Linked DNA regions of Homo sapiens. The protein of the gene in region 1 interacts with the protein of each later gene in a pairwise test. Each region holds a gene or a part of one and is shown on either strand. Other genes may lie near its edges. The genes, in order: SOX8 and MMP1.

What was found.
Region 2: the proteins of SOX8 (region 1) and MMP1 interact in a two-hybrid assay, tested with the Homo sapiens proteins (one large-scale study listed by BioGRID and IntAct).

What each region holds. Positions count from the first base shown.
Region 1 is NC_000016.10:984,519-987,552, forward strand, and holds the end of SOX8 (transcription factor SOX-8), read left to right. Parts: intron 1-182; coding exon 183-868; 3' UTR 869-2,461; downstream 2,462-3,034. UniProt on the Homo sapiens protein: Transcription factor that may play a role in central nervous system, limb and facial development. May be involved in male sex determination. Binds the consensus motif 5'-[AT][AT]CAA[AT]G-3'.
Region 2 is NC_000011.10:102,791,966-102,795,160, reverse strand, and holds part of MMP1 (interstitial collagenase isoform 1 preproprotein), read left to right. Parts: exon of another isoform or gene 1-13; intron 14-1,899; exon of another isoform or gene 1,900-2,016; intron 2,017-2,422; coding exon 2,423-2,556; intron 2,557-3,195. UniProt on the Homo sapiens protein: Cleaves collagens of types I, II, and III at one site in the helical domain. Also cleaves collagens of types VII and X.

The DNA.
Region 1 (3,034 bases):
TTCTCGGCCGAGGAGTGAGGTCTAGGTCTGACTTTGCTGGAATTTCTGGGAAATGTAAAGAAACAAAAAGCCGTTGATCCCCCTGGCAGTTAGCGCGGGCGTCCCTCCCCTTCCAGCCTGGCCGGCCCCACCCGCCCCACAGAAGGGGCATTCATCCCTGAAGCCTGCTCTCCTGTCCCCAGGGCAGACCCACGGGCCGCCCACCCCGCCCACCACCCCCAAGACGGAGCTGCAGCAGGCGGGCGCCAAGCCGGAGCTGAAGCTGGAGGGACGCCGGCCGGTGGACAGCGGGCGCCAGAACATCGACTTCAGCAACGTGGACATCTCGGAGCTCAGCAGCGAGGTCATGGGCACCATGGACGCCTTCGACGTCCACGAGTTCGACCAGTACCTGCCCCTGGGCGGCCCCGCCCCACCCGAGCCGGGCCAGGCCTATGGGGGCGCCTACTTCCACGCCGGGGCGTCCCCCGTGTGGGCCCACAAGAGTGCCCCGTCGGCCTCCGCGTCGCCCACCGAGACGGGTCCCCCACGGCCGCACATCAAGACGGAGCAGCCGAGCCCCGGCCACTACGGCGACCAGCCCCGAGGCTCGCCCGACTACGGTTCCTGCAGCGGCCAGTCCAGCGCCACCCCGGCCGCCCCCGCCGGCCCCTTCGCCGGCTCACAGGGCGACTATGGCGACCTGCAGGCCTCCAGCTACTATGGTGCCTACCCTGGCTACGCACCCGGCCTCTACCAGTACCCCTGCTTCCACTCGCCGCGCCGGCCCTACGCCTCACCCCTGCTCAACGGCCTGGCCCTGCCGCCCGCCCACAGCCCCACCAGTCACTGGGACCAGCCGGTGTACACCACCCTGACCAGGCCCTGAGGGCCCAGCCGCGGGGAGGGACTCGCAGGCGTCAGGGGGCAGCCTTGTCCCGGCCCAGTGTGTGTGACCAGGGCGGGAGGGGCCCCAGTGGCTGAGCTCCAAGTGCCTGCTGAAGTCTGCAGGGAAACACGCTTGCTGCCCGTGGCCCTCGGCCTCCAGATGGCCACACCTCTGCCGACGACGGACCAGCTCCCTCTCCCTTCTATCTTTCTTTTTGAGGTGGTGGGATTATTCCACAAAGAAGGGCTGCCGTTTGGTCCCTCTTCCGTGAGGACTGGCGGCACCAGCACCTTCGCTTTGCATCTCGGTAGAGGAGAAACGGCAGCACAGCCCAAGGACCAAAGGAGGGGGTGGCAGGGGCCTTGCAGGGCGCTGTGAGGTCCAGGCCGGTCTTGGCGCCGAGAGCCCCTGCACTCAAGGCCACATTCCCTCGACAACGGCTGCACGGGCTGTCCGGGATCCGGGGTGTCTGTCCGCAGACTGGGATGAGTCTACTCGAGCATCTCCGGGACCTGCCTGTCAGATCTGAGGTGTCTCCTTGCTGGCAGAGTGCGCTCACGCGAGGGCTGGCTGTGATGAACACATCTCTCTTTTATTTTTATGTTTTTGATAATTTTTATTTTTGAAGCTTAAATGTGTTTCTTCTGAAAGCTGTTAAAGATGTATTTATGTTCTGTGTTATTTTATCTTTAATTAATGAGGTAATTCGGGCAAAGAGTAGAATTTAAGACAAAACGGAAGCTGGGAAGCTTCCCTTGAGGGCAGGCAGGAGGTGGAGTTGCAGCTGTTGGCCGGCATCACGTTGCTCGTTGCTCGGCTTATGGGAGGCCGCCCTGGAGGGCCCGGAGGTCCCAAGGTCCCTGGGAGGACTGGGCCCCTCATGCCTCGAGCTTGGCAACCGAAAACCCGAGGGAGGAGAAGGGACCTGCCTTGTGACATCTCTGATCAGGTTGGGGTGCCCCAGCACCCAGTACCAGTTTGGGGTTTGGGAAGCAGGACTCCGTCCCTGTCCCCGACTGTGCCACGTGGTAGGACACATAGGACACAGGAATTCCTGGGTCCTTGCCCATGACTGTGCCATGTGGTAGGACACAGGACACAGGAATTCCTGGAAAGTGGTGGCTTCAGAAGTGATCTTGGCTCGCAGGCACCAGTGCCACCTACCAAGCTGTGAAACTAAACCTTCTCCACTAAACGTCGTTAGGGCCTCAGTTCTAGACGAGTCATACCTGATTCACCTGCACTGCTTCCCCTGTGTGCTGAGCATAGAGCATACAATAGCGCCTACTTCACGGAAACTTGTGCCTTTAAACTTTGTAAACTTAAACACAGCCGAGAAGTTGCTTCTTTGTACTTTTTCTACTTTTCCTACTTTTTTGTAGAAAAAAAAGATAATGCCTCTGCTTCTATTTCTCTGGGGGTGGGGGTGGGGGCCGGGAGCCGTCGCAGACCCGTTTCATGCAGCGTCTCCCTTGGCACCGCGTTCGGAGGACGCACCCTCACTCCCCTGCTGCCTTCACTCCTTTCTGACCAAGCAACGCTAACTTTTGTACAGATCGATTTGATAAAATTAAACAAAGTGCTTTTTATGGACGTGGGCTGCATTTTGTGTGTTGCTTTGTGTGAGCCTGGGGCTCCCGGGGTAAAGATGTCCGGCAAAGGCAGGATCAGGCCGTGCCACGCGGCCGCCGGCCTCACCCCAGTGCCCTCCACGCTGGGCGGCAAGGAGGGCGGCCGCGAGCCCACCCGGACCCCCGAGCGGCAGGGGCAGCCCGTCGTGCCACCAGGCGTCAGCAGGCTTCAGTCAGAATGGAAACAGCCATGCCCTTCGCGAATCCCGTCGCGGCCTCTGGGAACCGAGCTCCTCGTCTTCCTTCCTGGAGGGCCTCCTTGGTAGGCAAAATGGGTCTGGACGGGCCCGATTCGGGGCTGTGTTTTTCCTCCCAGGCGAATCCCAGAGCTGGTTTCTGGGTGGCTGTGCAATGCCAGGAAGCCGACGGCATCTTTCGGGCCTTGGCATGGAGCCAGGCTGGGAGCGGATGAAAGCGCCCCGCAGGAGCCGGCAGAGCTGTCTGGTTGGAGGAAAGTTTCTAGGGAGAAAATGGCTGTGGGAGTGACAGCCAGTGAGGGGCAGCCGGTCCCTTTGCCAGGTCTCCCGGGCACCTG
Region 2 (3,195 bases), on another chromosome or scaffold:
TCTTCTTTGTGATCTGCATTTGTAATAATAACAACATTCACCACTATGATTAACTATTATGCTTCACATGTTACTTATTTCATGCTGATTTACATCTATAATCACATGGTAGCAACCACATGCATTTGTGCAACATAATGTACTTGTAACAACTTTGTTTTTCTACATGTATTAGGTCAACTGATTCTCAGAAAATATAGTTGATTTTGAAAATCAGTATGTATGATCTTTTTTTACAGATTAGCAAAGTAAGTCAGAGAGAAGGAAAGAGATCTTTTGGGGGCATAGAGCTCATTGGTAGCAGAGCAGTTATTGGTCTTCTGTTCCCTATTTCAGGTCTCTTTTCATTATGCCACTCTTTATGGTGATAAGTATCATTGGACTTTCTTAGGAGAAAGTGGTCCTTTCCATAGCAACATCTCACTGATGAGGGTTGCATAGCCATCCTTTAATTATCTCCCCTGCCATCCTGGAAAAATGGCCCTCCCAAAGCCTATTAACTTGAAGGGTCTCTGTTGCCCCCTGGAGGCCCAGAGAAGAAGAGAAGAGAGGGCACCAATGCTGGGAAAGTCCCCAAGAACTGATGAAATCCCTCCTGGGACAGATAGGGGCAGCCACAACATGGTGCTTCCCTCTTCAAAGAAGAATCCTAGAACTCCCTCTGCAGCATGTGGACTCAAAAAGTTGGGGTCATCTCACATGCAAGGAGGAGGCCTGCTCTCTGTACCATAGTGATTCCTAAAGGATCAGGCAAAATAATAACACACTCTTTTGGTGTGTTATTGCACACCGCATTTGGTGAATGATGCAGTCCACAGAAAGATCAACACATAGAAATTCAGGGTGGCCTGAAAGGCTCATTCTCTGCAGCCTCTCAAGTGCTGTGGCACTGTTTTACTACTCTGTAGTCGCATCTCTCCTAGAATTCAGGGCACTGGCTCATAATTCTTTCTGCCCTCTCTTTACTTTTTAAGTGTAAAAGATAAGGCTGGAGGTAAACTATACAGGGTGTGGTTCAATGCTGGGACAAGTTAAGAAAACACATGGTTTTAAAGGAAACCTCTCAGTACAACAGGACACACCTATCAAACCAAATATTACTAGATGGAACAGGACCAATTTGAGGATTTGCCAGAATTGAAAGGACACAGAGATCATTTAAATGTCGCCATGTCGAGGAGACATGAAAGGCTAGAGATAGAGATAGTAACTGATTTGCCTAAGGCATCACAGCCAGGCAGAGGAAGGACTGGACCTAGAAGTCAGGTTTCCGACAGCCAAGGCCGTAGGCTTCCCTGTGGCCTGGAATCTGGAGCTCTTCTGTGTCAGCCCACATAACAGTCTATGCTGTGCTGTTACCCTAGTCCCTATTAAGCTCTATAATCCACTTTGTGTAAATACTACTAACCAAGGGACAACAAAGGGATTGGCTGCCAGAGCGGAGTTTAAAAATCAACCTTAGCCTCTTACCAGCTGGGTGGCCTTAGACACCTCCCTTAGTCTCCCCAACCTCAATTTCTCATCCTCAAATACTCTCTTGTAGTGTCCTTGTGATAAGGTCTGATGTAAGGAATGGGCCTGGTGTGTTGTAAGTAATCACTAAATAATAGGATATTAGAGTCATGGTCCAGTTGGTAATGTGCACAGCCGATCCCTAATGGCTCACCAAAGCTGACTGTTAAATTTTGAAGAATTTTGCAAGCTAGCTGTGAACCATAGCCATTATTAAAAATTAAATTATAGGCCAGGTGCAGTGGCTCACACTTGTAATCGCAGCACTTTGGGAGGCGGAGGCGGGGGAATCATTTGAGATCAGGAGTTCAAGACCAGCCTGGCCAATATGGTGAAACCCTGTCTCTACTAAAAGTACAAAAATTAGCTGGGCGTGTTGGCCTGTACCTGTAATCCCAGCTACTCAGGAGGCTGAGGCAGGAGAATCCTTGAATCTGGGAGGCAGAGGTTGCTCTGAGCCAAGATTGTACCACTACACTCCAGCCTGGGTGAGAGAGTGAGACTCTGTCTCAAAAAAGTAAATAAATAAAAAAGAGATAAAACTTAAATTATATAAACAAAATTAAATTACATTAAAATAAAAGGTAATAAAAATAATAAAAATTCATCAGTTTGTCATAATTTTTACTGCATTTTTCTACTTATTTATGTTCTTAAAGTTACTTATGCCTATTTTATTTGTATGCTATACAATGGTGCTCCACTGAGACTCTTGAAATTCATCATAATGGGAGTATTTCAAGCTAGTGAAATCAGCAAATGCTATAAACCAACCCTTCTTTGGAGAGCTGAATGTTATACATTTACCAGCACACCACTAGTGCCAGCAACAAGAAGGAGCTGGAGCTGGATATCTGCCAGAGATTACCAGAAATTAGATGGAAACTTTTCTTGCTTTTTTTCTAATCAGATTCTACATGCGCACAAATCCCTTCTACCCGGAAGTTGAGCTCAATTTCATTTCTGTTTTCTGGCCACAACTGCCAAATGGGCTTGAAGCTGCTTACGAATTTGCCGACAGAGATGAAGTCCGGTTTTTCAAAGGTAATCTTTCTAATTATTTTTCACTGCTTTAATAAATCAATTTTTCATTCCCTTTGGGGCTGAGATATAAGGTTACTAGCTACATTCTCTCCAGGGACTTTTGAAAATCTCAGTCTCACCAACCAAATCAATGAAAGTCCATCAACTTAACTAAACGGTGCGTAGCGCATTTTGGAGTCATTTTAAACAAAAGGCAAATGACTGGAGATAGAACGTTCTGGCCTTTTTAATGAATCTAGATTTACAAAAATATTTTCTGCACAAACTATGTATTTAAAACCCCCTCCATATTCCTGGGAGTACTCAAAGTAAAACTCGAGACACTATGCCACGCACCAATATTTTTGCAAACGTGTGTTTAACGTAGTACAATGAGTAAGACATTTGACTCAGCCATACACTCAAGGCAAAGAATTAAATGCAGGTCAGATGGGCCAAACGCTTTGAAACAGGATTTTTAGCCTTTAAATTATGAAATTAAATGGATGTTAGAGACAGAAAGTTTCAAATTCCTTTTTCATGAGGGGTAAATAGCACGTGTGTACAGTAACAGAAATCTTGGCTTTAGTATATGAGACCAGCTTTATGTGATGAGGGGCTTACTGAGTATAAACACGGAATCTGGACACAGCATTAATT